Linked DNA regions of Homo sapiens: regions 1 and 2 are each linked to region 3. The links come from fine-mapping of genetic effects on gene expression. A gene starts in region 3. Each other region holds a variant in brackets. All regions are shown on one strand. Distances are from middle to middle. Region 1 holds the start of RHBDL1 (rhomboid like 1). Region 2 overlaps HAGHL (hydroxyacylglutathione hydrolase like). Region 3 holds the start of FBXL16 (F-box and leucine rich repeat protein 16).

Region 1 (10,179 bases), 25 kb before region 3:
GAGCCCGCTGTACCCCCACGGCCTGTCTTCTGGGACTACTGCAACCCTAGGAGAAGCCCTCTGAGTGGCCCTTGCAGGGGCTGCCATAGTCACACGTGTCTTATCTGTCACCTCCATTGTGGAGGGGTTGGCCCGCCTTCCCAGGAGCAGGTCCCCTCATCCCAACTGCAGCCCTGCCCCCTGGGGGTTCTGCTCTGTGTTGGAATGCCCCTTGTGCCCAGCCCTGGCGCCGCCTTAGGGCGGGAGGTTTTGCTGTCCTGCATGGAGTTGCAAGAGTGGTCAGGGGCCTCCAGCCCAGGGTGTGGACGAGTGGGCTGGGCTTGGTCGTCAGAGCCAAGGCGGCTGCAGCAGCGTCTTCCTCCTCCTAAGAGGCGGCTGTAGTGGCCATGCGGGACGAGGGACTTCCTTGCTGCTGCGCTCGGTGGGGGGTTGCGGGGGGAGGGGGTGTGTCTGCTGCAAGCAGGGAGCTCCAGCCGGTGGCAACATGAACCGCAGGGAGTACTGGGTCAGCCTGGAGGGGGAGCAAGCAGTGGTCAGGGAAGGCTTCCTGGAAGAGGTGGCATCCTCACAGGCCTGAGCCCGGGAAGGCTGTGAGAGGGCGAACGGTCTTGCATGGGGGGTTTTAGGTGCCCCCCATCCCCGTGACTCCATTTACCAGCGGCTGCCGTGGAGGTAGTCCAGTGTGCTGGAGCTGCGCCAGAGCGGGGGTGGGGGCCGGCGCTGAGACGCGGTGCTAGCTGGAGGCGGTTCCTGTCCGGGGTGTGCGTCCGCGTGCAGGGTGCGCGCGTGTCTTGGCCGCGCGTGGCGGCGTGTGCGGCAGGGGCGGGCAGGCGGGCGACTCGGTGACGCGGCCCAAGCGCGGCGCCGAGCGGAGCGGGCGGAGCGGGCCGGCTGGGGCGGAGCGGAGTCGTCCGCAGAGCAGCCCCTCCCGGCCGCGGCCGCCGACCCCGGACCCCGGCCCCCGGCCAGGCTCTATGGACAGGAGCTCGCTGCTGCAGCTCATCCAGGAGCAGGTGCGTCGGGGGGTGGTCTGGGGAGCTGGCACCGCCCCCAATGCGGCCCTCCTGCCGCTGAGCTGAGCTTGTGCGGGACCGAGCTCCCCGAAAGCCCCGCTCGGTACCTACCTCATCCCTCCACGACCTTGGTCCGTGTGTCTGGGACCCCAGGAGAGGACTGACTGGACCAGAGCTCCTGGCTGGAGAAGGGAGAGTCGGGGGGAGGGAGGGAGGGAGGGAGGGAGGGCGGGCAGCTGGCTGGTCTTGGACCTTGGCCCTCGCTTTCCAGGATGGGTAGGGTGGAAGACGGGGGAACAACTGAGGAGCTGGAGGACTGGGACCCAGGCACCAGTGCCCTGCCAGCTCCTGGGATCAAGCAGGGTCCCAGGGAACAGACAGGCACGGGGCCCCTGTCCCAAAAGTGCTGGGAGCCTGAGCCTGATGCTCCCAGCCAGCCTGGCCCAGCCCTTTGGTCCAGGGGTCGGGCCCGCACTCAGGCCTTGGCTGGCGGCTCCTCACTGCAGCAGCTGGACCCCGAGAACACAGGCTTCATCGGTGCGGACACCTTCACTGGCCTGGTGCACAGCCATGAGCTGCCCCTGGACCCGGCCAAGCTGGACATGCTGGTGGCCCTGGCTCAGAGCAACGAGCAGGGCCAGGTCTGCTACCAGGAGCTGGTGGACCTGGTCAGTGCCACGGTGGGCAGGCGGCAGGGGCACGGTGTCCTGGCCAGAGGAGGCGGGCAGGCAGCTCCTCACGGCGGTGGGTGGGGGGCTTGTGGATGCGGGGAGCTGGGTGAGCCTCACAGGCAGGGGTGCCATGGGGAGGTCCGTGGCCCACACTCAGGCCCCTGCCCCCAGATCAGCAGCAAGCGCTCCAGCAGTTTCAAGCGGGCCATTGCTAACGGACAGCGGGCACTGCCCCGGGACGGGCCGCTGGATGAGCCAGGCCTAGGTGTCTACAAGCGGTTTGTGCGTTACGTGGCCTACGAGATCCTGCCTTGTGAGGTGGACCGCCGCTGGTACTTCTACCGTCACCGCAGCTGCCCACCCCCCGTGTTCATGGCCTCGGTCACTCTTGCCCAGGTGGGCCCCCCGGCCGCTGCCCCGGGAGCCTCCCGCGCTCCTGGCCATGACCAGCCTAACACTCGTGTCCCCAGATCATCGTGTTCCTGTGTTACGGGGCCCGCCTCAACAAGTGGGTGCTGCAGACCTACCACCCCGAGTACATGAAGAGCCCCCTTGTGTACCACCCCGGGCACCGTGCCCGCGCCTGGCGCTTCCTCACCTACATGTTCATGCACGTTGGGTGAGTAGCACTGCTGCCCGGTGAGCCCCGCCCCAACCTGCCATTACATCAGAAAGGCTTAGCCGCAAGGCAGGTGCGGCAACTTGAGGTGACGGCTGGGGGTGGGGCCGGATGGCTGACCCCACCCTTCGTACCCGTTTGCTTCCCTGTGGCCAGGCTGGAGCAGCTGGGGTTCAACGCCCTCCTGCAGCTGATGATCGGGGTGCCCCTGGAGATGGTGCACGGCCTGCTCCGCATCAGCCTGCTCTACCTGGCAGGCGTGCTGGCAGGTGAGGCAGGCGCGCACCCCCGCCCCCTGCCCTGGCCGGCTGCACCCTCACCCGCCGCTTGCTCACACAGGCTCCCTAACCGTCTCCATCACCGACATGCGGGCCCCGGTGGTGGGAGGCTCCGGCGGGGTCTACGCCCTGTGCTCGGCACACCTGGCCAACGTTGTCATGGTAACGGGCCTGCCCGGTGGGGGGCGTGGGGAGGGGCCCCAGGTGAGCCTCACCACTTCTCGTCTGCACACACCCATAGAACTGGGCTGGGATGAGATGTCCCTACAAGTTGCTGAGGATGGTGCTGGCCTTGGTGTGCAGTGAGTAGGGGCCGGGGGGAGGGCCGGGGGGCCTCTCAGCCTGCAGCCAGGGCACCTCCCACCTGCCGCGTCCCTCTGCAGTGAGCTCCGAGGTGGGCCGGGCCGTGTGGCTGCGCTTCTCCCCGCCGCTGCCCGCCTCGGGCCCACAGCCCAGCTTCATGGCGCACCTGGCAGGCGCGGTGGTGGGGGTGAGCATGGGCCTGACCATCCTGCGGAGCTACGAGGAGCGCCTGCGGGACCAGTGCGGCTGGTGGGTGGTGCTGCTGGCCTACGGCACCTTCCTGCTCTTCGCCGTCTTCTGGAACGTCTTCGCCTACGACCTGCTGGGCGCCCACATCCCCCCACCGCCCTGACCGGCTACCTGAGGCTGCACAGGCCAGGGCTCGGGCATGTGGTGGCCGCCCACCAGGGGCCTTCACGTCTGCCCTTTGTGAACGGACGTCTCAGGGCTGCTGTGCCCCTTGGGTGTGGGTGGCCTCAAAGGAGGCCCTGTCCCAGCCACCCACCCCCCACTCCCAGGACTTGCGGTCTGAGCCTTTTTGGATAATTAATAAATATTTTACACAGCACCAGGGGGCTGTCCCGGGCTCTGGAGACTCGTCAGGGCCCCCACACCTGCTGCACAGACCGCGACGGCCCTCCCCACCACGGGGGCCTGGACTTCCCTCCTTGTGCATCTCTGCACCTGGGGTCAGGCGTGGGAGTTGTTCCTGGGCCACAGGTGCTGTGTCTGTGGGAGCTGGGGGCACGCGGGATGGCTGGGGGCCGGGCGTGTGGTCAGGCCAGGTGTGTGGTCAGGCCGGGTGTGTGATCAGGCGTGAGTTTGGGAAGTGTTTATTGAGCTCCCGTAGTGGCCAGCCTCCTCTTCAGCCTCCCTGCCGTCCAGTGAGACCCGGAGGCCTGAGGTTCTGTGGCAGGTGAGCAGGCCTGGGCCATGGCCAAGTTTACTCGGCCTGGGTTCCATGCTTCTTGGCTGGCCTAGCATCCTCGTGGGTGGCCAGGCTGGGGCCAAGGTTGGGCAGCAGGTCTGGGCACAGCCTCTGCCCCACAGCCCAGGTCCACAGTGCTGTCTCCACTAGGTAGGGAGTCCACTGTCCTGAGGCACTGGCTAGGGAGGGGCACACGGACTCAGGCCCAGGGGCACGGGCCACCCCAACCTGCCCACACACAGTTCATTCCCCTTGGCTCAGAGCTGTGGCCCGCTCTTGAACCTGGCCCAGGTACAGCAGGTAGTACCTGAGGGTGTACTGTGGGGCCGGCCAGCCGGGCACTGTGGCCACCGCCTCATCTGACATGAAGGCCTCCATCTCTGGAGCTCCAGCTGCCAGGACTGCTGTGAACAGCGAGGAGAAGCAGCCAGACACACCCCATCAGGACAAGCTCTGGGAGACCCTGCTCCCAGCAGCCCAGGGCCCTATGGTTCCTGCTCCTAGCGACACGCAAGGGCCCAGACTGCCCGCTTCACAGACAAGAACGCCTATGTACCCAAGTCGTGCCCACCCAACTCACCCGAGGCTGTGGTGGGCCCACACCGCAGAGGGCACACAGCTCGGTGACTGCAGCCCCCACATCTGGCAGGAGGCAGAAGGTGGCGGTCGAACAGTGCACAACCAGCTCAGGGGGATTGGTGGCCACCAGCTGCTGCAGACGTGGCCGGAAGCGCCCCTCTGTGGGAGGCCAGGTCAGGGTGCCTGGGGTGCTGGACCCACCAGGGAGGCCCCGCCCCCACTGGAGACACCCGCCCCGCCGATGCCAC[G/T]CCCCAATGAAGACCCGCGCTACGGAGGCCCTGCCCTCGGGGCGGGCCGCCCTTCACAGTCAAGCTGCCAGGCCAGCAGCCGCTCCAGCTCCCTGTCACATGCTTCTCTGCTCTGCCCCTGATGGCCGCTGGCAACTCTTCCCGATACCTGAGGAAGGGCGGTGAGGGGAGGACTGGCCACGGAGGACGCTCGCCCCACCGATCTCTATCCCCTTCCACTCTACCAACAGTCCGGGGCTTCCAGCCGCCCTCGGGGGCTCGCGCTCGCCCGTAGCACCTCTCGTGGCGCTCCAGAATGGCAGCCCAGCGACTGGGGTCCTCACACCCCACAGCGCGTGGGAAGCCGCTACGTTCACGCGCAGGGGCGGGAGGCGGCGGCTGGGGGCGGGGCCTCTGCTGATGGGGCCGGGTGCTGGGGGCGGGGCCTCTGGATTGGGCGGTTGCTGGGGGCGGGGCCTCTGCGGATGGGGCTGGGGGCGGGGCCTCTGCTGATGGGGCCGGCGGCTGGGGGCGGGGCCTCTGGATTGGGCGGCTGCTGGGGGCGGGGCCTCTGCGGATGGGGCCGGCTGCTGGGGGCGGGGCCTCTGGATGGGGCCGGCTGCCGGGGGAGGGGTCTCTGCGCGTTGGGACAGGGGCGGAACCCCAGGTGGTCGGGACAGGCTGTTGCGGGAGCGCGCCCTCAGCGAAGCAAGTGAGGCATCTCACTGGGAAAGTCGAATGTGTGTGGCGGCCGCCGCCGAGGCGGGTTCCGAAGAGACCTCAGCAGGGCAGGCCAGGGCCTACGCGAACGCCCACCCTTAAGAGCGCGGGGACAGGGAACTGGAGCGTTCCTCCCAGCCCCCGACGTCGCGGGCCCAGTGTCCCCGTCCAGGCTGGTTGGGCGCACGCGCGGCCCCACTCGCCCCCACGCGTGCGTCCCCGCTGGTCCCGCCCCCGGCCGGAAGTTCCGGCGGCGGAGCTGGGCCGGGCCCGAGCGGATCGCGGGCTCGGGCTGCGGGGCTCCGGCTGCGGGCGCTGGGCCGCGAGGCGCGGAGCTTGGGAGCGGAGCCCAGGCCGTGCCGCGCGGCGCCATGAAGGGCAAGGAGGAGAAGGAGGGCGGCGCACGGCTGGGCGCTGGCGGCGGAAGCCCCGAGAAGAGCCCGAGCGCGCAGGAGCTCAAGGAGCAGGGCAATCGTCTGTTCGTGGGCCGAAAGTACCCGGAGGCGGCGGCCTGCTACGGCCGCGCGATCGTGAGTGCGCCCGCGCGGGGAGGGCGGCGGCGGTGGCACCGGGGAGGGCCGGGCCCGGGCCCGGCCGGCCCCACCGAGGGTCTGGCTCCTCTTCGGGGCGTGTCCTCGGCTCCCAAAGCCCAGCCGTGGTTCTCGAGCCCAGCGCCGGGTGCCGGAGAACGAGGGTGCGATGCTGGATGGAGGCCGGCCGGGTGGGGGGAGGGCAGGGGCCCTCGACCCTTGAGGACCCCAGGTCCTAAGCCCGGACTCTCCAAAGATTTGGAAAACTTTACAAAACCAAGTGGAATCAAGCGGATAGGCTCAGCCAGTACTCCACTGTGCACAGATCCTTGGACCCAGGGGCTTTGACAACTGAGAAACCTAGTTTCTTGATTCTAGCCAGAGCGCAGAAGCTGGGACGGGCCGTGGGTCAGAGTGGGCACGCTGAGCCTACGCCCTCATGCGGCTGGCCCGGCCTTGGTCCCTAGACCCGGAACCCGCTGGTGGCCGTGTATTACACCAACCGGGCCTTGTGCTACCTGAAGATGCAGCAGCACGAGCAGGCCCTGGCCGACTGCCGGCGCGCCCTGGAGCTGGACGGGCAGTCTGTGAAGGCGCACTTCTTCCTGGGGCAGTGCCAGCTGGAGATGGAGAGCTATGATGAGGCCATCGCCAATCTGCAGCGAGGTTGGCTGACAAGCTGCCCGGTTGTGGGGCCTCTGGGGCCAGGCGGGTGGACTGGCCAGAGAGTGACGTGAAGCCCCCGTTCCCCAGCTTACAGCCTGGCCAAGGAGCAGCGGCTGAACTTCGGGGACGACATCCCCAGCGCTCTTCGAATCGCGAAGAAGAAGCGCTGGAACAGCATTGAGGAGCGGCGCATCCACCAGGAGAGCGAGCTGCACTCCTACCTCTCCAGGCTCATTGCCGCGGAGCGTGAGAGGTGGGACCCTCACCCCAGGCCGCCCTGTCTTGGGATAATTCTGAATCACCGACTCCCGACACAAGCGTTTATCGAAGGCTTTACTGGCAAGCAGGAAATGTGGGGAAGTGTGGATGTTAGCTCTGAGATTGGGGTGTGGTCAGACATCTGGCCAGGTCCATCTCTGACCGGCTCCTGGTCAACCCCCAGGGAGCTGGAAGAGTGCCAGCGAAACCACGAGGGTGATGAGGACGACAGCCACGTCCGGGCCCAGCAGGCCTGCATTGAGGCCAAGCACGTGAGGGTGCCCCCCACCCACATGTGGGTCTGTGTGTGTGCACGTGGCGTGGGAGCATCCCCGCCTTGTGTTGGGTCTGTGCCCCATGGAGGAGGGAGGTGGGGTGTCTCCCCCAAGCACAGCACTCAACTCTTCACAGGACAAGTACATGGCGGACATGGACGAGCTTTTTTCTCAGGTGGATGAGAAGAGGAAGGTGAGTGTGTGTCGCTTGCTGCCGATGGCTGGCAGGTGCTCGTGCAGTGCCCCTTTTCAGCCTCTGACCGTGTGCCCCTGTGCCACAGAAGCGAGACATCCCCGACTACCTGTGTGGCAAGATCAGCTTTGAGCTGATGCGGGAGCCGTGCATCACGCCCAGTGGCATCACCTACGACCGCAAGGACATCGAGGAGCACCTGCAGGTGAGGCCTGCGGCTGGGGGAGCAGGGCCAGTGGCATGGTCCTGGGCCCCATGACTGCCCTCTGCCCTTCTTGTCACTGCAGCGTGTGGGTCATTTTGACCCCGTGACCCGGAGCCCCCTGACCCAGGAACAGCTCATCCCCAACTTGGCTATGAAGGAGGTTATTGACGCATTCATCTCTGAGAATGGCTGGGTGGAGGACTACTGAGGTTCCCTGCCCTACCTGGCGTCCTGGTCCAGGGGAGCCCTGGGCAGAAGCCCCCGGCCCCTATACATAGTTTATGTTCCTGGCCACCCCGACCGCTTCCCCCAAGTTCTGCTGTTGGACTCTGGACTGTTTCCCCTCTCAGCATCGCTTTTGCTGGGCCGTGATCGTCCCCCTTTGTGGGCTGGAAAAGCAGGTGAGGGTGGGCTGGGCTGAGGCCATTGCCGCCACTATCTGTGTAATAAAATCCGTGAGCACGAGGTGGGACGTGCTGGTGTGTGACCGGCAGTCCTGCCAGCTGTTTTGGCTAGCCGAGGAAGGTGGAGATGAAGACGCTGGTGTCAAGGTTGAGCGTAGCATGCCACCAGCGGTCGGGGAAGTACAGCACCTGGTGGAGGAAGGGGGTGCAGCAGAGATTAGCTGCGGGCCTCTAGCCTGGCCTGGCCCTCTCCTGCCAGCCACTGACCTCACCAGCCCGGATGGTACACTCCAGGGGCCGTGCAGACGGTGGCAGGGCTGGGTATGTGTCCCGGAGCCAGGCCAGCGTGGTCTTGTTGGGGTGGAACTCTGGCGTCTTCTCAGGTGGGTAAAGGAACCAGCGCTGGGGGCATGAGCAGCAGTGTCACCCTTGCCCGTTTTGGTCAGCGAGTCCCAAGCCTCAACCCCCACCCCGTGCTGACCTTACGACCGTAGATCACTTCTGAGTACCCGGGTCCATGCCAGTGGAAGGGCACCCCCGAGCCAGCTCCTGTGGGGTTATGAGCACCTGGTGACCAACCCATTTTGTACTCACCGACAGAAGCCTCAGTCCTTCCCAGTCCCAAGAAGCACCCACCTGCGATTCCAAAGCTGTAAGCTGGAGCGGTTCCCAGCAGGCCAAATGGGGGTGGGGAGTAGTGCCGAAAGAGAGAGGCCCACTCGGTGAAGTTGTTGTCCCCGAAGAAGTACAGGGTGTCTGCCAACAGAGACGGCGGGGACAGGGATCCTGGCACCTGGAGACTCCAAGCGTCCCCACCCCCTACCGCCGCCTAGGGCTGCCTCACCATTGCCCAGGGAGGTGGGGTCCTGGGGGTGCAGCAGCTGCTCCACATACTCCTGGAAGGGCAAGTCCACTGCAGGAAAGAGACGGGTCAGGACCGTCTGGTCCAGCCGCCCCGGTGTTGGCAAATGGGCGGGCCCCAGGGGTGAGGCCGCGTACCTTTGTGGTAGGAGTAGGTGTTGGCGGTGCTCAGCCGGACCACTCTGTCCCCAAACGAAGCCAGCAACCTGTCGCGGGAGCACAGGGCCCGGAACCTCTGCGGGGGCGGGGAGGGGACTTAGTGGCCGGGCCCAGCACGGGCGAGAGTGGCCGGGGACGGACGGGCACGCGCTCACCGAGTTGTCCGTGAGTCCCTGCAGGATGACGGGCCTGACGAAGGCGTACCTGGAAAGAAGGGCAGAGTCGCGGCCAGGCCGGACCGCCAGCCTCGCCGCCCCAGCCCCACGCGTGCGCGCGAGGTCAGGGGAAGGCGGCCTTGGGCGGTCGGGGCAGACGGGCCGGTGAACAGGACGCGACCTCCGCGATCAGGGGCGCACGTACTGCTGCACGAACTCCGCGTAGGTGAGGTCGGCCCGACGCTCCACCGTGCAGCGCTCCTCCTCCGCCACGGCCCCCGGCCCGCCCGGGCGCCTGCGGGCACAGCTGGGTCAGCCCGCGCCCCGCCCGCCGCACGTGACCCCACCGCCCGGCCCCTCCCGGGCCGCTCACCACCCGCCGTCGCCCTCCGCCCCGGAGCCGGGTAGAGCCACAGCCGCCAGCGCCCAGAGCGCGAGCAACCGCGACGCCGGCGCCATGAGCCTGCCGCCCTCAGGCAGCCGCGCTGCACGCCGGGAACCTTGGGCCCATCCGCCAGCCATTGGCCGGCAGCTTCGTCGTCGTGGCAACGGCCGGGAACCGGGACGGACCCCGGAAGTGACCTCCTTTGGCCCGCCCCGGAAGAGGCCTCTACGGGAGGCACTGGGAAGGCCGCCCCGAGAGCGACTATGGGCGCCGCCGGTTACCATGGCGACAACCCCGCCGAAAGCCCCCGCCCGCCAGCTGCCCCGCGGGCCTACGGCGAGCCCGCCGCGCTATGGGGTGACACGCAGTGCCGACAGCGGCTCTACTTCCTTTATTGAGGTCTCAAGTTCCAGCCTCCGCCCGTCTCGGGCACAAGACCAGGCGGGGTTCTGCACGCGGCCGCCCGGGCAAGCCCAGCAGATGCCCCGTCAGGAGTACTCGCAGAGGTGGCCGCAGCCTGCGGGACAGTGGGAGCTGCCTTCCAGCCACTTCATGATGTGCTGCAGGTGGCCGCCGTGGCTGCAGCCCTGGCACCACACGAAGAGACCCTTGACTACGTGGTGGCAGACGGCACACATGCTGGCGCAGCGGTGGCACCTGGGGGCGGGCGGGAGGGAGGGTGCCTCAGCGGGGGCTGCTGCGCTGCCTGCAGGCCCCTGCCCCACCTCCCGACCCCACTGCCCCACCTGT
Region 2 (9,895 bases), 27 kb after region 3:
TTGGGGCTCCCTGAAGTTACGGCACCTCTGGCCTCCGCCCTTTCGCTGCTGCCTGGCGGTCCCTGCACGCGCTGGGCGCAGTCACCGCCCGCTGGGTCCCCGCTCCCCGGCGCTCCCCGGGGCTCTGGCCGGCCTGGGGCAGTGAGCGCGGCGGATCCCGATATGGAGGGAGTGGGCCACCGGGACCGTCTGTGTTACCGTCACTCCCGTCCCTTTCAGCTGCTGGAGATCGTGGGCCGGGAGGGGGTGTCTCTGACCGCTGTGCTGACCACCCACCATCACTGGTGAGCGCCGGCGGGGCGCGGGGAGGCACGAGGACGCCGCCTTGTCCCAACCCGACCTAACCCGGCCCCCGCCCGCCCGCCCGCAGGGACCACGCGCGGGGAAACCCGGAGCTGGCGCGGCTTCGTCCCGGGCTGGCGGTGCTGGGCGCGGACGAGCGCATCTTCTCGCTGACGCGCAGGCTGGCGCACGGCGAGGAGCTGCGGGTGAGCGCGCGCTCCCGGGAGGGGCGGGGAGGGCGCCCCGGGTCCACCCGCCCTCACAGGTCCGCCTGCTCCTCCGCCGCAGTTCGGGGCCATCCACGTGCGTTGCCTCCTGACGCCCGGCCACACCGCCGGCCACATGAGCTACTTCCTGTGGGAGGACGATTGCCCGGACCCACCCGCCCTGTTCTCGGGTACCCGCAGCGCGGAGCGCGCCCACCCCGCCTCCCGCCGGCCCCGCCCCATCTGCTCTGACCCGCCCTCCCCCGCCAGGCGACGCGCTGTCGGTGGCCGGCTGCGGCTCGTGCCTGGAGGGCAGCGCCCAGCAGATGTACCAGAGCCTGGCCGAGCTGGGTACCCTGCCCCCCGAGACGGTGAGCGGGCCTGGGCCCTCCCCTCTTCTCCCGTGGGCACAGCCCCCACGCTCCGCACCCTCACTGTGCTAGGGGTGCAGAGTGAATGCCCACCTGAGGGCAGACCGGGCAGGGGAGGCCAGGCCCCCGGCGCAAGCACTTTCCCCGCTTCCTGGCCGCGTGCGCGCTCACCGAGCGCTCTTCCTCCAGAAGGTGTTCTGCGGCCACGAGCACACGCTTAGCAACCTGGAGTTTGCCCAGAAAGTGGAGCCCTGCAACGACCACGTGAGAGCCAAGCTGTCCTGGGCTAAGGCACGGCCCCTTTCCCGCCGCGGCAAGAGGGTGGGGGGGGAGGGAACAGGCTTCGGGGTGGGGGGGGCTCTCAGACAAGGCCTAATGGTGACCGGGGCCTGTGGTCACTCCAGAAGAGGGATGAGGATGACGTGCCCACTGTGCCGTCGACTCTGGGCGAGGAGCGCCTCTACAACCCCTTCCTGCGGGTGGCGTGAGTATGGCTGTTGTCCCGGGGCCTCCACCGTTACGTGGACCCTTAGGAAGGCATCTGGGGACTGCGTGTTGGGCTGAGTGAGCATCTCTGGCTTGGGGGAGGCTGCTCATTAAGTGCCTGCCTGCCCGCCCACCCCTCGGCGCCATGCTCCCGCGTGGGCAGCGGGCCCTGCGCCTCACTGCACCCCTCCCTGCAGAGAGGAGCCGGTGCGCAAGTTCACGGGCAAGGCGGTCCCCGCCGACGTCCTGGAGGCGCTATGCAAGGAGCGGGCGCGCTTCGAACAGGCGGGCGAGCCGCGGCAGCCACAGGCGCGGGCCCTCCTTGCGCTGCAGTGGGGGCTCCTGAGTGCAGCCCCACACGACTGAGCCACCCAGACCCTCACAGGGCTGGGGCCTGCGTCCCTCCTCGTGACCTCGGCCAGCTGGACCCACATGAGGGCCACCTCTGGAACCTTCTTCGAGGCCCTGGCCAGCCATCTGCCCAGCCTCGGAGGGTGGGCAACCTGGTGCTTCCCGGGTGGACACACAGGACCACTCAGTGGGGCCTGTGTGGGCGCCGAGACCTGGGTGTCTGGGAAGTGGGGCACACGGGGCCTCCGAACTATGAATAAAGCTTTGAAAGGCCGTTGTCAGTGTTGGCAGATGTGCCAGGAGAGGAGCTGTTTTCGTAGGCGTGTTTTAGGAGGGGTGCGTTTATTAGACAAACGCTGGGAGACAGGCCTGGTGGGGACCTGGCTGGGGGATGATGCAGCCCGCGATGGCTGCTGCTTCGTACTTGGCTTGCCCCGGACCACAGCCTCGTAACGGTAACCCCTGCTTTCCAGGGGCCTGGCACCCCCCCCTGCCAGGGTCCACACGCAGGGTTGTGGCGGGACCACCCCTGCAGGTCCAGCTCTGTCTCCCACCTTTTGCACAGAGCTTCAAGGGAAGCCTCCAGAAGTCAGGGGTGAGAACCCGTCTTGCTCTGCCTCAGGCAACCCCGGGACAGGCTGAAGCCCCTCACGCACTTGGGTGCCCGACCAGCAGCAGCAAGGGCAGCACCTGTGGGCCTCGGCCCAGGGCCAACGGAACAGGCTCTGGGACCTCAGGGAACCTTCTGCTGCCTGGGCCACCCCACCCCACCTGGGCAGAGCCAGTGGGAACCCAGAGGCACCCAACTGGAGGTGACGAGGCGGCTGCGGGTCCTGGCTAGTCCTAGCTCCTACTCGGGTCCCAGCACACCCTGCAGCTCACTCAGAATTTTGGGGGAAGCCCTGGGGTCTTGGGGCATGTGGTTCTGCTGTCACACATGGACACGGCCTCCTGGGAGTCCTGGTCCTGCAGCCCCTACCACCGGATGCCCAGGCCAGTGCTGGCCTTCTCCACGGCGTGGTACTGCGTATGCAGCAAGCGACCTGCACACTCCGAGTCCGTGCCCTGCAGCCAGTGTGTGTACAGCTCCTGAACCCCAGGCGCGTCCTCGGGCGCCTCAGCCCGGACCATGCCGTACAGTCTCTCCACGTGCTGGAGGAGCTCTCTGCTGGGCCTGTCTGGGGCCTGGAGCTGGCCCCCGCCGTTCAGGCAGCCTATGGGAGAGCAGACGGGACAGGGGTCACAGCCTGCGCCCCAGCCAAGCTTCCTGACCACCAGGGAGCAGGGAGGTGACCGGGCCCCCTCTGTGCCCCACTTCCTCCCACTCCCAGCCTGGTGGATGGTGGCCCACAGCTCTGCTCCCAGAAGGGGTCCTCGTGTCCTGTCCCTTGCAGGAGCTACCTGAGGGGCAGGCCATGACCTCCACGTAGTGGTAGGGGCAGCGCCCTCGTTTGAGCCTCTGCACCAGGTTCTGGATGTTGCGGAAGCCGTACGCCATTGCGAAGTGCAGCAGCACCTGGCCCTCCTTCTCCAGTGTCACCTCCTGGAAGTCTTTGTTCCTGGGGGGCACAGGCGGGGTTTGTCTACATGGCACACCCACCAGGCTCCTGCCTGCCTGGAAGGGGAGGCCTGCTGGGCTTCAGGGGATGACCGGGTACCTCCCAGGGCTCTCTCCCTCTCTCCTGGGCAGAGGGAAGGACAAGAACGGAGAGAGAGGGTGGAAGGCTCACTTCCTTGAGTCCAGCAGGGGACCTCACCTCCAGCCTCGGGCTGTCTGTGAAACAGGCCTCCCTCCCCAGGGATGTCTGTGAGGCCCTGGCCCTCCCTCCTGGGATGTGGTCGCGTGCCTGCGCCAGGCACCCATCACCTTTGCCCATGCTGGCCTCTCGGGCTCAGGGTCACCATCCCCCACAATGGGCCGACTGAGGCCTGGAGTGCTTAGGTGCCTTCACACCCTGAGCCCGCCAGGAGGGCCCTGCCTGGCCCCAGGGTCCCCTCCAAACCCTGCAGGCTGCCCTCCACCCAGCCCACCTCTGTGGGAGGACCCCAGGGGAGGCAGCAGCCCGAGGAAGGCTGGGGGCTGTGTGGCCGCTCTGCCCAGAGATCTGGCCCATCCCACTGACCTCAGGGGTTTGTAGGTAACCTCAGCCACATGGATTCCAAAGAGCTCTCGGGCCGCGTGCCGGAACACGTGCTCCAGGTAGCCCCCCGAGCCCCCTCCCCGATGGCTGGTGGGCTCCTCTGCAGAGGCACCGCTGCACCTGGCAAGGAGGGAGGGGCCTCAGCACAGCTGGGGCTGCTGCCTGCCAACCTCC[C/T]GAGCAGGGCCTCTGTCCCTCACACATGAGCGTTTGCATTTCCAGGTGGGAGACAAGTCACAGACACAGAGGAACAGCTCCTGTGTCACCAGCCATCACAGGGGCCCAGCCACTTCTTGTTTTTTTTTTTGAGACGGAGTCTTGCTCTGTCGCCCAGGCTGGAGTGCAGTGGCGTGATCTTGGCTCACTGCAAGCTCCGCCTCCTGGGTTCAAGCAATTCTCATGCCTCAACCTCCCAAGTAGCTGGGATTACAGGGCCTGGCATGGATTACCACCATGTCTGGCTAAATTTTGTATTTTTAGTAGAGATGAGGTTTCACCATGTTGGCCGAGCTGGTCTCGAACTCCTGACCTCAGGTGATCTGCCCACCTTGGCCTCCCAAAGTGCTGGGGTGACAGGCGTGAGCTACTGCGCCTGGCTATCCAGCCACTTCTGTGGACGCCAAGATGGGCTGCGGGGAGGCAAGCCCAGAGCAGGGGGATGCTATCCTCAGAGGCAGCGTTAGAAGCTAAAATAACAGTTCTTGGTGGCAGACATACGTACAGGCTGTCCAGAGGGGCTGGTTCCAGGTCGGGGAGGGAGACGCCCTCTTCCTCCAGCAACCTGAAAACTTCTCCTGCAAAGAAGCCACAGCGCAGACACTCTTTAGCGGAGATCCCAGCAACAAAGTCAGAGAACATCCAAGCCACCTGCATCCCCAGCAGTCTGCACTTTGGCCCCAGAAGGCCCCAAATGTCCACCCTAGCCCGTGGTGGGGAGGCCAGGCCCGGTCACTCCTGAAGCCCCTCTGGAGGCTGCCTGGTCCTGCCCAGGGAGGTGTGCCAGCGGCCAGGCCACTCTGCTCACCCAGTGTCCATCTGTCCATCCTCTTAGGCAGTCTGCTTTTCTTTTTTTTTTGAGACGGAGTCTCACTCTGCCGCCCAGGCTGGAGTGCAATGGTACGATCTCGGCTCACTACGACCTCTGCCCCCCGGGATCAAGTGACTCTCCTGCCTCAGCCTCCCGAGTAGCTGGGATTACAGGAGCACCACCACTACTCCCGGCTAATTTTCGTATTTTTAGTAGACATGGGGTTTCATCATCTCGGCCAGGCTGGTCTTGAACTCCTGACCTCGTGATCCACCCACCTCTGCCTCCCAAAGTGCTGGGATTACAGGCGTGAGCCACCATGCCCGGCCACAGTTTGCTTTTCTGCCTCACATTTGGGAGACTGTGGGGCTGCTCGACTCAGGAATGGGGTGACTCATGGGAGCTGAAGAGGCTGCATTCGAGAATCTCTGCCCACCTCCAAAGACTCATTTCAGAGCCAACAAGGAGGTATTACTGAGCGCCACCTGGCTGCAGGTCCCCAAGACAGGCCAGCTGCAAATGGGCCCACCTGGCTCCAAGGGGAGAGACGAAGGTACGTGCACGCATGCGAGCCCCCACACTCCAGCCAGGGCCCCCACAGGCAGGATCCTGGGCAGTCGCCACCTGTGCCCAGGGCTCAGGAATCAGACCAGGAGGCTTGAGGGCTCAGGGCCGCACGGCGTGACCGCACCTGTTGTGAGGACACAGTCCACATCCCGTGTCTGGTGCTCCTGGTTGAAAAAGTCGGGTCTGGAGGCTTCCAGCTTTTTGTCATAGCAGGGCATCACTGTGACGTGGTAGATCTTGTCAGGGGTCAAGTGCTACAAGGAGAAACAAACACTTGTCTCCCCAATCCCAGCAGTAAGGTGGCTGAGACGGGACCTGGAACTCAGCCATCCTGCAGCCAGGCCGGACCCCGAGGGACAGTGAGCCTCACTCCATTTCCCAGCAAGCCTCCTGCCGGCTCTGCGGATGTGTCCCTGGACAGGACGGGCCCTGGCTGTGACAGAAAATGACACTGACCCATTCCCAGTGTGCCTGCGCTCCCTAACAGCCAAGTCCAGCGGAGGAGAAGTGGCCTTCCCACGGCTCGGGCCGTCTCACTGCACAGCAGCCGGGGAAACGGATGTCACGGGGGAACCAACCAGCTCCAGCCCCGGGTGAAAATCCGCGTGCAGTCAGGCAAGAGGTGCCGCAGGGGACATGGGCGCTCGAGGCCCAGGCACCACCGGGGCCGCCCTCGCCCTCTCCCGCCCCCTGCTGGCTGAGTGTCTTCAGGCTTCTATCCCGCTGGGCCTCAGGTGGGGGTCGTGCTGGGCATCCTCGTGGACCTGGTGGCCGGAGGGGTGGGCTCCAGGCCCGGACTGCCCAGGGCCTCCTGCTCCCTCAGCCTCAGGCCTGGCTGCCTCTGGGTGAGCAGTGAGCACCTCTGGATCAGAACGAAGCCCTCTGCTGCAGAAGAGGAAGGGCCTGAACCAGGAGGGAACAAGGGTGGAGGTGTGCTGGGGAAGGCCGCACAGCACAGCGAGGACTCTGTTTCCTGCAGCCTCATGGCAAGAGGCCAGCAAAGTCACTTCTGGCCGCTCCCCAGCCTGAGTCTGGGGCTGGCCCAACGCCGTTACCTGCTGCTGGGCGAAGAAGTCCTTGACCAGGGAGCCCATGACCTGCTGCGGGGACCGGGCGGTGCTGATGTGGGGGAGGATGAAGCTGCCGTGAGTCTTCTCGGCATAGCAGATCCAGCCTGAGGTGACAGGGGGCACACGGGGCTGGCGGGGGCGCACGGCGGCCCCCGCACCCACAGGCAGCAGCACGACATTCTGGGGGCGGGCCCGCTCATACAGGAGATCATGATGACATTAAAGAGTGCTCATTCCTGTTCTCCCCACCACCACGCGGAGCTCGGCGTGCAGGCGACACCGCCTAGGGACCTGAGGTGACTGCGCGTGGCTCCCACGGGAGGGCAGCCTCTTCTCCAGAAAAGGCCATTTGTGCCAACATTTCCAACCCGTCCCGCAAAACCTGCTTGCGTCTCCACCCCCCATGCCCCCGCCTTGTCATTTGTGTCCATATCACCTCACGTTTCAACTGCACTTGAACTTGACTCTCCCACCACCCGCACCATGAGCACACCTGGGCAGGCAGAGGCCAGCAGGGGCAGCGCCTGTCTGCAGTCGGCCTGTCCTCGGAATCGCCGCACAAACTCTCGCTGGCTCTCCAGGAGGCTGAAGTGCCTTGAGAAGGCGGTGTCGAAGACGAAGTGCACCCCTGGAAGGTGAAGGTGGGTGCCTGGTTAACCCCATGCGGGACGCCCACACGAGCACACGCCGGCGTGTGGACCACCATGGTGCTGCCAGGGCACGTGTGTCGCACCTGCTTGCCGTGCCAAAGCCCCGGCCCCACCGTGGGGACCTCCTAAAGCCACGTTGCGCCAAAGCCCCAGCCCCACTGTGGGGACCTCCTAAAGCCACGTTGCCTCGGCATCCCCTGTGAACCCAGGCCTTGGTTTCCCACCCCAGAGGCAGCCACCCAGCAGCTCAGTCCTCCACCCTCCCAGCTCTTCAGCGTGGCTGGTCCAGGGAATTGCCACGTGCGCTGCTCCCGGTGACCCTCCCTAGGGCACAGCTGGACGCAGCCTGCTGGACTGGCCCCTCGGACCCTGACTGTGCAGACCTACCATAGTGGCCACCCCTCACACACAGCAGGACTCCTGGAACACGCCAGCCAGCTCCAAGCCCAGCCATTAGAACTGCTCAGTAAACCTGCCTGATCGTGCCCTGGACCCAGCAGAGGCACCCGCGTGTGGGTCCCTCTCTCTCTGCCTGACTTGTCATTCCTCCCTCGCGTAACCCGTGGTCGGAGGACTCGCTGTGCCCCACTTGCCCGTCATCATCATCTCTAAGTAAAAATCTTTGAACTTGCTTCCTATTCTGGTGGGGACGAAATCCACACCTTCCATCTGGAGAACCATGGGCTGCCCCAGGCCAGGTTTTCCCTGGGACACCAGGTCAGGCTCCCAGTGCCAGAGCACTGCTCAGGCACCAACTGGATATGGGTCAGACAGGAGCCATGGGGCACCTGCCAGTGTCACCAGGTTTCCAGTGTGAGGGACCTGGGACACAGCTGGATGACAGGCAGTCTGCTGGTTACAAGGCGCACAGGCCTGCCTCACTGGGAATGAAGGGACTGGACATGGTGGTTACCTGTGAAAGGCACACAGTAACCATGAGGTCCAGCCCCTTCATTCCCAGTGAGACACCAGGCACTGGAGCCTAGTTAGCTGGGGGCTCTCAAGACACCCAGATCCTCCCCAAGCCCAGCTCCAGGCACATAACCAAAGTCAGCAGAAGCTGACCTTGGCTGAACCCAACAGAGCCCCGGAGAGAGTGCCTTAATATTATCAGCTAAAAAGTACAAGGAGTTGGTCAGCCCCAGCTTAGAGAAAGTGCACAGTCAGAATGCAGACGTGTTCTGTGAGAAGGCCCTGCTCTCAAATGTCAAATCAAAACTTCAGGCTGAGGTCACAGAGGGAATAAAGTTTCTGTAGCGCTGAAGTTCAGGGCTGGGTAGCGTGTCAGTGACTCAGAGGCGCGAGGGGCCTGGGCTTACTCAGACGCCCCCTTGATTTGGAGCGGCAGTGTTACCCCAGGTTCAAAGCCTACCTATTTTTTTAAAGAATGAGGTTAATTTCCTGGCAGTATCTGTAGGATTCAGCTGAAACCGTGCAGCCAGCGATGCTCTAGACTGTGGTGAGACCGAAACTACAACCAGCCTCTGCTGACTGGGTGCCGCCATCTGCAAAGCAAGGGGAAGACGCTGCTTACTCTGCTGGCCTTATGCTGATTCCTGGTGGCCAGAGCCGCACGGTGAGATGCTGTCAGCTGTGGAGAGGGCAGGCCAGCTCCATCAAGAGTCTTTTTTTTTTTTTTAACACAGAGTCTCACTCTGTTGCCCAGGCTGGAGTGCAGTGGTGCGATCGGAGCTCACTGCATGCAACCTCCGCCTCCCAGGTTCAGCCTCCTGGGTAGATGGGATTACAGGCGTGAACCACCGTGCCTGGCCAAGGGTATCGTTTTTTTTTGATGGAGTCTCACTCTATCACCAGGCTGGTGTGTAATGGCGCAATCTCGGCTCACTGCAACCTCTGTCTCCTGGGTTCAAGCGATTCTCCTGCCTCAGCCTCTCTAGTAGCTTGGATTACAGGCATGTGCCACCACACCTGGCTAATTCTTGTATTTTTAGTAGAGACGGGGTTTCACCATGTTGGCCACGGTGGTCTCGAACTCCTGACCTCAGGTGATCCACCCGGCTCAGCCTCCCAAAGTGCTGGTATGACAGGCGTGAGCCCCCGCGCCCAGTAGGGGTGTCATTTTGATGTATATTTAGAACCTGAAGTTTGGGGCCTGACACGTTCACCACTGGAGCCCACTGACAAATCACCAAGATTCCAAGCCTCAAAAAGGCAGGCGCCACCCGCACGACGGACGTCGGCACCACACGAGCTGCCCTTGGCAAAACGCGTTGTCGGCTGCTGGGATGGATTTCAGGTTAAAGCAGAGTCACCAGGCCGACCACTGCTTACCTTGTTAGCATCTAGAACCTTCTTCAGCTCCTCGTGGCTCTGCTGGGTGATAAGCACGGTCTCTGCGGAGGTGATGCAGCCGCTGCACGCCAGGCAGTCGTTTAGCGAGACCTTGGCCTTCTCCAGCCTCCGGGTCCCGCCGTCCTACAAGGGAGAAGAACCCGGTGCACAGGGGCCCCCTCTGCACGAGGACATGGAGACAGAGGATAGTGGAGTCCAGCTCATAACCGACAACCAACATGGCTGCTGGCTGGGCTTGTGTGCCGCTGAATTTTTAAAAATTAGGTATGTATTACAAAAATGCACACGCACGCTCTACAGTTTCATAATGCCGTCAAGTCTGCTTCTTGGTACCACTTGGTTAGTGCATCCGAATCACAGGACTAAGGCTTGCCACTGGTATCTCAGCAAAGCAGCAGCCACCCCACTCACCCATGGGGCCCTGGACGGGGTGC
Region 3 (10,179 bases):
GGGGGTGTAGACCGGAGCCGGGACCAGGGGTCTCGCCAGAACACGTGGCCCTCGTGGCTGAGAACCCAGCTTTGGGTTTAAAGTCCTTCCTGCCCTAATGGCAGGAGCCCCAGCTCCACCCTCTGTACCATCTCCCCCTCCCCAGAGTATCATTCGGGTCCTGGAAGGTGAGGCCGGGCCCTCCACAGAGGAGGCACCCACAGCCGGTGACCCCCATCATGTGCCCATGATCAGAAGGCGCGGCCTCCGGAGGCCGACATCACAACGTTTGCAAGGGCCGGCTGGGGTCGGCACATGATTCGACCTCACGGCCGCCCTTAGGGGTGGAGGGGTCGCTACCTCAGGTTTGGGGAAGGAACACGAGGCTCTGAGGAGCGAATTTGCCCCAGGTGTCCGGGGAGGCCTGGCGCGGGGCTGCCTCGGTTCCCTCCCAGAGCCGGGGAGAGGGGATATCGCAGGATGCCGGCGCCCGAGGCGGCAGCACCAGGCCCACGGGCGCCCCAGTCTAAATATCCTCCGTGCCCCTAGAGCGGGGACCCTCGCTCCCCAGACCCGGAAGCGCCGCCTTCCCCGCCAGGGACGCCTGGGCCTCCGCAGACCCCGCCGGCCGGCGCGCCACCCGCGCCAGCACCATGGACAGCGGCCGCCCCAGCCGCGCGCTCAGGGCCAGGCCCGGGCTGGCTTCCACCGCGGACGGCTGCGGGGTCGGGGCAGCCCCGCAATCCCAAATCCCGGCAGCCCCCGCTCAGCAGGGAGGGGCCCCGGGGGCGAAGAGTGGGGGAGAAGCCGGGAAGGATCCGGAGGAGGCGGCGGGGGCGGCGCCAGGGGAGGAATAATCCCGGCGCAGTGCCGATTTAGGTTGAAAACGCTCCCAGTCATGGGCCTGCACGTGGAGCGCCGGGGCTGGGGGAGGCATTCGCGGGGCTCCTTTCCCGCCCCGCTCGGGAGCTCACGTTTGCCGGCGCCCACAGTCCCGTCCCCACCTCCAGGCCTCAGGGTCGAGATGGAGAAACCAAGCCGCACTTTGAGAGCCCACAGGAGGGAGGGGACAGGCTGAGGAGCGGCCGTCTGGGTATGGGTCCGGGGCCTGGCTTCCCTCATCCACACCCGCAGCGCTGCCAGAAGGCGCTGCTCTGCCTGTGGTCAGCCCTCGACCCGTGTGCTTGGTGGGAGCTGCATCCCCGCACAGGCAGCCCCACTGCTCCCCAATCTCGCGTCCACGTTCCTGCCGGCCCCCGCTGCTCCTCACACTCCCGGCTTGACTGACTCAGCCCGAATATCCCCCACCCCGTAGCTCAAAAATGCAAACAGCCACACACTTTGGCCCAGGCATGGGCGCTGCGGGAGAAAGCTGAGCTCAACTGGAGACTGGGGTCTCTCTGCCCGTTCAGCGAGAAGTCCCTGGGGGCTCACACAAGGGCCCCTCTGCTTGGCCCTGGGCCCGGCCCCACCCACCCAGCCAGACGGTCACCAAGGAGCCGGTTCCCATGGCTCACAGAGCCCCCTTTCCTGCTTGGCGACTGTGAGAGCCCTCGTTCCACCCAGAGGGGCTCGGACGACCTGCGTGGGCTGCTAGGGACTGCCTCTCCCTTTAGGGACAAGCAGCCCGGGTGCTAATACGGGGAAGAGACTTGTTAAAAAGGTGGCCATGCCTGCACCATCCTCAGCCTCAGCCCCTGTGGTGCTGGCTCAGCTTGAAGTGGAATCCTGTCAAGGCTCCGGGGCTCACCCCAGGGGAAAGAGAGAGAGGTGGCCCCACCTCAGCTGTCTTGTCCTCAGCAGCCTGAGCCTGGCCTGGGAGCTGCTGGGGAGAGGTGGCCGTGGCCTCTGTGTCCTCCCCAGGGGACGCAGTGTGAAGCGTGTGGCCAGAGTGAGCCTAGGGAGCACGGTGGGGCCTGGGTGCTCCTGGGGGTCCCCACATGTACATGTACAGCATCCAGGCTGACCATTCCCAGACGGCCATGTGGGGGCCCCGCAGGAGCTGCCTCTTCTGCGAATCAAGTCACTGAGCCCGGAGACCTCAGCTCCGGCCCCTTCCCAGCCCTGATGCCACAGCCCAGCCATGCCATTCCTCCTCCCCTGCTCCTCTGCCTGGGCACACGCCGTTCCCCCTGCTTGCCTGGCAGGGTTTCCCTGCCTTAGCCCTGCAAGCTCTTCTCCTCCATCCCTCAGTTCCTGGTGCGAGGTCGCCCCTGCCTCCTGCTCCGGGACCCCCAGCTCTTGAGAAAGCGTCTCCAGGGTCTTGCAATCACATGGGTTATCATCACTGTCCACCTGGTGTCTCTCCTCCTGGCCTGAGGACTCTTGAGGACAGACAGCACCAACGTGCATGGCCTCTGCATGTTCGCGGAATGAATGAATTAGGGAACGAATGAATGAATGCGGAATGTGGCTCCGCTAGCTCAGTCACGCAGAAAGGGGTGCAGCTGCCAAGGCCCCCGGAGGGCTGATGGAGGATTGGTCAAATTTAGGAAGAGGCCGGTCAGCGGGGAAGGCACAGCTCGGGAAATTAACCCGGATCGTGCCATGGCCAGTGTCCGCGGGGAGAGTGGCCTCTGGGGTTGGGACTAGGTTGGTACCTGAGTCACTGAGAGGGCTCCCAAGACCCCAGGGCTGGGGTGGGCCTTGCAATACACAGAGCCTTCGGATGAGGAGGGCCCATCTCCTTTTCAGCTGGCTCTCTCTTCAGGAGCTGCAGGGCTGAGGAAGTGGCTGCCCGTCCTCCACCATCTGGCCTGAGCCAAGAGAGGGAAGGGGGTCCTCCTGCCCCGCTCTCCCTGGCACCACACGCACCCCTCCTCTGACCGGCCAGAGTCCTTCCTTCACACACTGCCTAACTAGGAGTGGGGAAGCAGAGCTTGCAGACGGATTTTCCAGAAGTTACATAGAGCTAGGATTGGCTCCAAAAGCCCCGGGGCTGGCTGATTCCCTCTACCTGGGTCCTGCCAGGTGTACCTCACAGGGTCCTCGCTCTGCCCTGTTCTGCCTCATGGGGTCTCGATGCCTTCCTGCTGGGCCCTGGGCTAGTGGTCTCTCCAAGTACTGCCCTCATCCTGCAGGGTCCCTGCCACGGCGCTGCATTCCTTGCAGAGGCTGCACACCGCGTGCCCACCCCTGGGACATCCTTTTGGACACATGCCTGGGAAACCTCCTCACCCCTCAGCGCCCCCAGTTTGAAGGTCTCTTCCCCCATCTCTGGTGCCCCCATCTCTGTCAGCACCAGACTGGGGCACAGCCTAACCAACCACTCAGCCCTCATAGAACCTCAGGGACCATTGAGCCCTGCCTGCAGAGGGCCTTAGAGCTGGGCAGGGCCCTGGTGGCCAGAGAAATGCACATCGGGCTCCATCTGCAGTGGCAGCCCCAGAGCCTGGCTGACAGCTGGGGTGGCTGGGGATTGGGGACAGGGTGCAGACTGACACATTCCGTGGCAGCCCCGTGACGCAGGCACACCCGCGTCCCTGCCACTTGGCACGTGGCACAGCGGCAGAGCTCCTCTCCCGCCCCCAGTTTGAGATGCTTCTGGGGGTGCACCAGGGGCTCTGAGGAGGGGCACCATGGCGCAGCAGGCACGTGGCCTCAAGAGAAACCCGTGTTGCTGCCCCAGCAGACTGAGGGCCCATGGTCAAGCCCAGGGCAGCTCAGCCTTGAAAGCTGGACACCCTGGGGAGTGGGTGCTGGGATCCAGGCCTCATCTCAGCCCCTGCTCGGAAGAGCATGAGCACCCTCAGAGGCGAGGCCTGGGCCCCTAGTGCCTACTGCTCCAGGCAGCTGCCACTAACCATCACCCCTCTTTCCTGCCCAGTGAAGGAATGAGGCCTGAACCCACACATTGCAGCCAGTTTGGCCGTTGACTCCTCCTGCACCACTGGTGGGGAAGGCTCAGTCACCTGCTCACCCACAGAGCTCCCTTCACTGCCAATCCAGTCATGGGAGGCACAGCAGTGGGTGCCCACATGCAAGGAGATGGGGTCTTCGGGTGGCTGAACAGTGCCACCTGGGTGGGAGATCCCTAACTCTCAGCAACACAAGGCTTCCTGGGTCCATGTCCAGCTGGTTCAAGGGCCCCGTGCCTCCCACACAGGAAGCTGTTTGTGTCCTTCTCATCAGTGGGAGGTAGGACTCGTCCAGCCGCCCCGGAAGTGGGTGTGAGCTGGAGGCAGTGAGTCTGTCGATGGAGGGGCTGAACTCAAGGGTCTGGCCCCAGATGAGGGGCAGTTGGGGTGGCAGGGGGCAGGGAGTGGGGCAAGTGAGTCCTAGGGTTCCCCCACACAGCGATGTTTGCAGCTGGGCCTTGAATTTCCCTCCCCTCCAGGCGGCTCCAGGTCCAGCCCTGTGTCCACCTCTGGCCAGACCAGCCAGGTTCCACTAGGCCTCTGCCCTGGTCCGGGAGACAGAAAACCCTTCAGTCTCCTGGCCTGACCCAGGCCTATCTGCTCCAAGGCTGCTGTCCAGCACCCCACAGAGGGGGTGGGCTGGGAGACGGCCCTGTGTCCAGGGAGGCCTGAGCTGCCCCTGGCCATTGGGCCCTCGGATGCACGGGTGTGGGGGAAGGGCCTGAAGGAAGAGGCAGGTGAGGTGGCCTCCGCCATCTGCTCCTCCTGCGGAGGGCAGGCTGCCCGAACAGAGCCTGGAGCCTGGGAAGGGCCTGGAGTGGCCGCTGGGCCGTCAGTTCCTGAAGCTGCCACCGCAGCCCTCTCTCCTGAGGTGATGGGTGGGGAACGCTCTCCACCCACCTAATCCCCAGGAGGACACCGGACCCCTCCCGAGCAGGTCTGAAGGTGCCGTTTCCCTTCTGAGGCCCTCCAACCTTGGCCAAGGCCCGGTCCCGCCTCCAGAACCAGGAAGGTGCCAGCCTCCCCCCACCCTCCTCCTCCCGCGGGCAGTAGCTCAGCGCAGGCCCCGGGTCCAGAAGCCGCCCGCCCGGGGAGGGCCGCCCCTCAGGCCGCACATCCACGCGACCCCCATGCAGTTTAACGGTCTCTGGCCTGTCACTTCGGTCCGGGGGCGCCCTCTGAGCCGACCAGGCGCCCGGGGTGGAGGCCGGGGGCCTACAATTCCTCCTTTCGGCGTCCCAGGAGGCACGGACCCCCAGCCCCGGCCGAGTGGCCAGTGGGGAGCGGCCCTCTTCCGGGCCAGGGGCCGGGGCGCGGGGCTGCGGGAAGGCCAGGCAGGGACCGAGGCCCAGCGGCCGCGGGGGAGGTGGGGAAGGGGCTGCCGTTACGTAAGCCCTTCCCGGGCGGCGGCGGCGCGGCCCCCACCCCCACCCCGCCCCCTCCTCATTGTGGCCGCCGCGGAGGTGCGGCCTGGCCCCCTCCCGGCCCCGCAGCCCGGCCGCACGCGCACCTTACCTCGGCCCGGGCTCCTGGCTCATGCCACGCTGTCCGCCGGGCGACCTCCCGTCATGGGGAGCCCGGCATGGGCGTCGGCGCGCGGGGGCCGCCGGGGTGCTGGACTGGCCGGCAGGGCCCGGCCGCGCCCTGCGCCCCGCGTCCCGTCCTGGCCGGGCCCCCTCGGCAGCGCACGGAAAGGAGCTCCCCGGTGGGAGAGGATCGGCCGCCCCAAGCCTCCCACCGGGGAGGCTGAGGCTGTGCCCAGATAAATAAGGCCGCTTTGCAGGGAACCAGGCGGGCGCCTCCTCCTCCCCTCGCCCTCCCCGCGCTCCTCCGTGGCCGCCGCCGGCGCCGCGCGCGCCCCCCGCCCGGCACCAAACGCCGCGCCCTCGCGCGCTCCCGGCGTGGCGAGCCAATCCGGGTTCGCGAGCCCGGGCGGGGGCGCCGAGAATGCCGAGCCCCGCCCCCGCCCCGCCCCGGCCCCCGCGCGCGGCGCGCTCCCGGCACGGCGTCCACGAGCACGCGCCAGGCCCGGCACGCGCCCCCGCCCCGCTCGCCGCGGGCACCCGCACAATAACAAACCCCGGCGCGCGGCGGGCGGGGAGGGCGCGGGAGGCAGAAGGGAGGGCGAGGGGAGGCGGGAGAGCAGGCGCCGGCGGGTGGCCCAGGGGTCCGGGGTCCTATGGGGACCGGGGCGGCACCGCGCGTCCCGGCCCTTGGCCACCACTTGGGGAGGCGAGGAAGGCGAGACCCGGCCCAGAGGAGACAGGGTGGTCAGACCCCCGTCTCTGGACCCTCCCGCCCAGCCCACGGCAAGGACCCTTCACAGCCCTCACACCCCCCGCGCACCTGCTGCGTGCCCGGCCGGAAGCCCCTCATTGGAGACCCTGGCACACCCGCAGAGCGCGAAAACAAGTGACTGCACGGATCAGTTCAGACAGTGACAGTGAAAGCACCCGAGGGCTTGCGGTGGTGACTTCTGGCGGGGGCTTCCTGAGGGTGCCCCACTGGAGCTGAGACCCCCCCACGGCGCGAGGGAGGGATGGCTCGGGAATGGGGGTGCAAAGATCCGAGGAGCCTGGCAAGTTCCCTCGGGAATAAACTGGAGGCTGGAGGCGGCGGCGGCTGCTGCAGCCCGGGGCAGGGGTGGGGCGTGCTAGGTTAGGTGGAGGACTCGGTGGGGACCGCTGGAGACCCCAGACGCCCCAGCAGGCTCAGGGCAGGAGAATGGAGGCCAATGGCGCCCTATCCTGGGGTCTCCTGGGAGCAGGGCCGGGGGAGGGAGCAGGTGTGGGGAGAGCAGAGGGGTTCTTTGCACCGGGAAAGAGCTACAGGGCTGAATGGGGCTCCTGAGAGTATCTCAATAGGAGTGAAACCAGCTGCTGTTCCCAGCGTCCTGATGGGAAGCCTGGCCGAAGGGGCCGGTGTGAGGCCTGGGGTCAGCGGGAAGGAGGGTCAGACTGACGGCACCCTGGCTGGGTCCCGGGGTGGGGTGGTTCTGTGCTTGCTGTGGGGGCGCCACTGGGTCTACCTGGGGTGAGCGCAGCAGCTCTTCTGCGTAAGTCTTGCCCGGTACCTGGATACTGACCAAAGAAGGTGCCCGGAGTGGGGCAGACAGGACGAGCCCCGTGAAGACAGTTGGGGCAACAGGGGAGCGGCGGTCCAACCTATCTGGGTGTCTCCGGTGCATGGTCTGGCAGGCTGGCCCTCTGGCAGCAGCTTCCACCCCAGGCGTGGACTGCTCCCGGTAGGAGGGTTTCACCTCGTGCCTGGGGCTCTCACCACAGCAGGTGCCAGGGCCTCAGGCAGAGAACAAGCTGTGCTTGTGTTGAGTCCCAGCTGGGGCTGGAGCCGGACACACCCCAAGCGCACAGGGCAGGCTGGACACACCCCAAGTGCATAGGGTGGGCTGGACACACCCCAAGTGCATAGGGTGAGCGTGGGAGTCAGGCATTTGGGTCATGCAACCCTGGCGAGGCCCAAGAAGCTAGCCCTGCCTGTGGGGAATCTGAGCAGGGAAGAGTGTGTGGAAGATCATCACAGAAAGGCCAACCGTGCTCCTCCAAAGCGGTGACCCACCTGCCCTCCACCTCTGTGACCAGCTGTGACCCACCTACCCCCCACCTCTGTCACCAGCTGTGACCCACCTACCCTCCACCTCTGTCACCAGCTGTGACCCACCTACCCTCCACCTCTGTCACCAGCTGTGACCCACCTACCCTCCACCTCTGTCACCAGCTGTGACCCACCTACCCTCCACCTCTGTCACCAGCTGTGACCCACCTACCCTCCACCTCTGTCACCAGCTGTGACCCACCTACCCTCCACCTCTGTGACCCCACCTGTGCCGGGCAACTTTGTCTGTCTCCACCATGGCTGGTGGCAGCTACTTCCCCATTGGTCTCTCCACCCCTCTCCCATCTCCTTTTCTCCCCAGGGTGCAGCGGGGCCATTTTGCCGTGCAGACATGGTCCTGTTCTTCCCAGGGCCCTGTTCATTCTTTGCTGAAGACTGCACAGCCCTGAGTGCCTGGCACGGCTGGCCCACAGCCTCGCTCTATACCTGGCCCCTTGAGGATGAAGCTTCAGCCACACTGGCCTTCTTCTGGGGCCAGGAGAGTGCCCCATCCCTAACCTGGTGTGCCCCTCCCTTCACCTGGAGCACCCTTCACCTGGGGCACCCCTCACCTGGAGCACCCCTCCCTTCACCTGGAGCTCCCCTGCAGCACCCCTCCCCTGGAGCACCCCTTCCTGGAGCATTTCCTCATGTGGAGCACCCCTCCCTTAGAGCACCTCTCGCCTGGAGCACTCCTCTCCTGGCCCCTTGCCTGGAGCACTCCCTTGCCACCTGTACCTGGGTGACTACTTGCCTTTCAGACCTTGGCTAATGTATTCTCCCCTAGGTGCCCTCCCTCAGGAGGACAGGGCCACAGACCCGTGTCCTCACCTCCCCAGCACCAAGGACCTTCTTTTCTCAGCCTGTGTCTGCCTGGTGTCTGATGGTGCATTTGATGAGCTATTGGCTGACTGTGCCTGCTGAGGGCCAGGGTGCGGTCTTCTTCCCCACCACCCTGTCCCTGGGCACTGAGCCTCCATCTCAGTACGTCACAGGTGCATGGCAAATTTGGCGAATGAGGGAGACAGCGATGCGTCAGCAGCATGAAAGGTGACTGGCACCAGCAGTTTGGATCGCCTCCTGTGGCGGGAGGCCCTTGTAGAGGATACCTTTGGAGAACAGCTCACACCCCAGAGGGAAGTGGCTTGGACAAAGGGGGCTGCTCAGCAGACTTCGATCTCCTCTGGGGGATGTGGATACCGCTCAGGCCCGCACCCCTCCATTGGTCCTGGAGACTGATATGGGAGGCGGTATGTGCCTTGGCTCCGGAGGGCACCTGGAGCACCCCTCACCTGGAGAACCCTCATCCAGAGCACTCCTTTCCTGGAGCACCCCTCACCTGAAGCACCCTCAGTTGGAGCATCCTCTCACCTAGAGAACCCTCACCTGGAGCACCCTGTTACCCGGGGCACCCTCACCTGGAAAACCCTCATCTGGAGCACCTTCTCACCTGGAGAACCGTCACCTGGAGCACCCTGTTACCTGGAGCACCCTGTTACCCGGAGCACCCTCATCTGGAGCACCCCCTCACCTGGAGCACCCCTCACCTGGAGCACCCCTCACCTGGAGAGCCCCTCTCCTGCAGAACCCCTACCAGGAGCATACTTCACCGGGACCACCCCTTGCCTTGATGCCTCAGCACTGAGGAGTCTCCCATCTAGGTGGCTGGGAGGGCACTCTGGAGCCATGGGGATGAGGACCAGAGGCTGCTGGTACATCTTGCCCTGAGACTTTGGAGGACTGCAAGGGGACCCACATTCACTTCAGCTCTGCACCTGTGGTGATATCCCCACACTGGAGAGCAAAGTGATTGCTCCGGGGGCCAGATGGCCACGCCACCATCCCCCCACACACTGCCCCTGCCCCCTGCCTGGAGCACAGCCCGAGAGCACCCAGGATCATCCATGTGAAGCAGCAGGCTGTGGGTATGTTTGGCCGTCCCGACCCCTCCACAGCCAGAATGGGCACCCATAGGCATGAGAACCTCACAGCCATTAGGGGTGCCCTGAGTGCCATGGGCGGTGGGATTTCTCTGATGCCCCCCAGCTCTGCTCCCTGCCTGGCTCGCCCCCTATCAAGGCTAAGGATGACTCAGGGCCCAGCCATCACCATAGCAACACGCGTCGCCTAGCAATGGCGGTCTCCCGGCAACGGTTGTCTCCTAGCAATGGGATATTTTCCTGGGCCCTGGCTGGAGCCCGGCAGTTATTTTTAGCTCCACAGCAAATCAGTCGGCAGCTGCATTTTCGGCTCCTTGAAGAGAGGCAAGGTGTGGGGGGGTGGGTCTCTCGGCAAAGGGAGGAAAGCATCCCCAAGATAGGAATCTTGCTGCCGTGGGCCCGGAGGTGCAGGCCTGTGGGTGGGCGAGGCCGGATCCTGCCTGTGCAGGGGGGCAGGTGGCCGGTGGAGGGGAGCCAGGGGTTGTGCAGGCTGCCTGGATGAGTCGGCAGCTAGGACTATGTCCTTGATGGGCCCCCAAGCACCCTGAGCCTCATAGGTCGGCTGGGTAGAGGGGACGCAGGCCAGTGCTCACAGCTGCACTATCAGAGCATGTTTCTGGGTGGCCCAGGGTCTGGCAGGCTCTTGGCACCCAGTGCCCCTCAGCTGTGGGAGCCATCTTCACTGTCCCAGACCCCAGCTCCACCCAGGGAGGGGGCAGCAGGGCGGCCGCAGAGCAGCACATTTGGCCAATCCCGTGCAGGGCTCAGCTGGGGACACAGGAGGCGCTGGC

Evidence for each region. PIP is the estimated chance that this variant, and not a neighbour inherited with it, causes the effect.
Region 1: its variant is fine-mapped to the expression of FBXL16 in T cells (TOPMed, PIP above 0.99).
Region 2: its variant is fine-mapped to the expression of FBXL16 in whole blood (TOPMed, PIP above 0.99).

Annotation. Positions count from the first base shown.
Region 1 is chr16:674,817-684,995 of GRCh38, forward strand. RHBDL1 (rhomboid like 1) reads left to right here and starts at 855. Exons shown (of 8, transcript NM_001278720.2): 1 at 855-1,013; 2 at 1,520-1,681; 3 at 1,856-2,080; 4 at 2,155-2,303; 5 at 2,460-2,572; 6 at 2,643-2,743; 7 at 2,823-2,883; 8 at 2,965-3,452. The coding sequence starts at 975. The coding sequence ends at 3,236. It overlaps STUB1 (STIP1 homology and U-box containing protein 1), which reads left to right and starts at 5,594. Exons shown (of 7, transcript NM_005861.4): 1 at 5,594-5,868; 2 at 6,336-6,534; 3 at 6,622-6,787; 4 at 6,977-7,064; 5 at 7,204-7,260; 6 at 7,349-7,465; 7 at 7,548-7,985. The coding sequence starts at 5,710. The coding sequence ends at 7,673. It overlaps JMJD8 (jumonji domain containing 8), which reads right to left and starts at 9,518. Exons shown (of 9, transcript NM_001005920.4): 1 at 9,418-9,518; 2 at 9,250-9,339; 3 at 9,045-9,093; 4 at 8,869-8,965; 5 at 8,714-8,782; 6 at 8,506-8,625; 7 at 8,351-8,418; 8 at 8,137-8,271; 9 at 6,854-8,058. The coding sequence starts at 9,503. The coding sequence ends at 7,978. It overlaps WDR24 (WD repeat domain 24), which reads right to left. Exons shown (of 9, transcript NM_032259.4): 8 at 10,176-10,179; 9 at 9,806-10,086. The coding sequence ends at 9,918. It also overlaps the pseudogene STUB1-DT. RefSeq lists enhancers at 147-681, 6,353-6,402, 6,373-6,960, 6,961-7,548, 9,898-9,947 and silencers at 880-929, 5,073-5,182, 5,463-5,672, 9,188-9,497. The variant G/T (reference allele first, on the strand shown) is at 4,640.
Region 2 is chr16:727,746-737,640 of GRCh38, forward strand. It overlaps HAGHL (hydroxyacylglutathione hydrolase like), which reads left to right. Exons shown (of 8, transcript NM_032304.4): 2 at 220-284; 3 at 371-488; 4 at 571-679; 5 at 759-859; 6 at 1,049-1,150; 7 at 1,264-1,343; 8 at 1,543-1,970. The coding sequence ends at 1,711. CIAO3 (cytosolic iron-sulfur assembly component 3) reads right to left here. Exons shown (of 11, transcript NM_022493.3): 3 at 9,441-9,584; 4 at 8,521-8,653; 5 at 6,992-7,126; 6 at 6,484-6,602; 7 at 5,553-5,682; 8 at 4,556-4,628; 9 at 3,820-3,957; 10 at 3,098-3,255; 11 at 2,020-2,910. The coding sequence ends at 2,672. Among named protein-coding and RNA genes, the nearest start is that of HAGHL, 5.6 kb to the left of the region's middle. RefSeq lists silencers at 23-172, 293-402, 413-592, 623-882. The variant C/T (reference allele first, on the strand shown) is at 4,012.
Region 3 is chr16:700,161-710,339 of GRCh38, forward strand. It overlaps FBXL16 (F-box and leucine rich repeat protein 16), which reads right to left and starts at 5,641. Exons shown (of 6, transcript NM_153350.4): 1 at 5,352-5,641. RefSeq lists enhancers at 1-726, 6,230-6,846, 6,847-7,462 and silencers at 619-718, 6,725-6,941.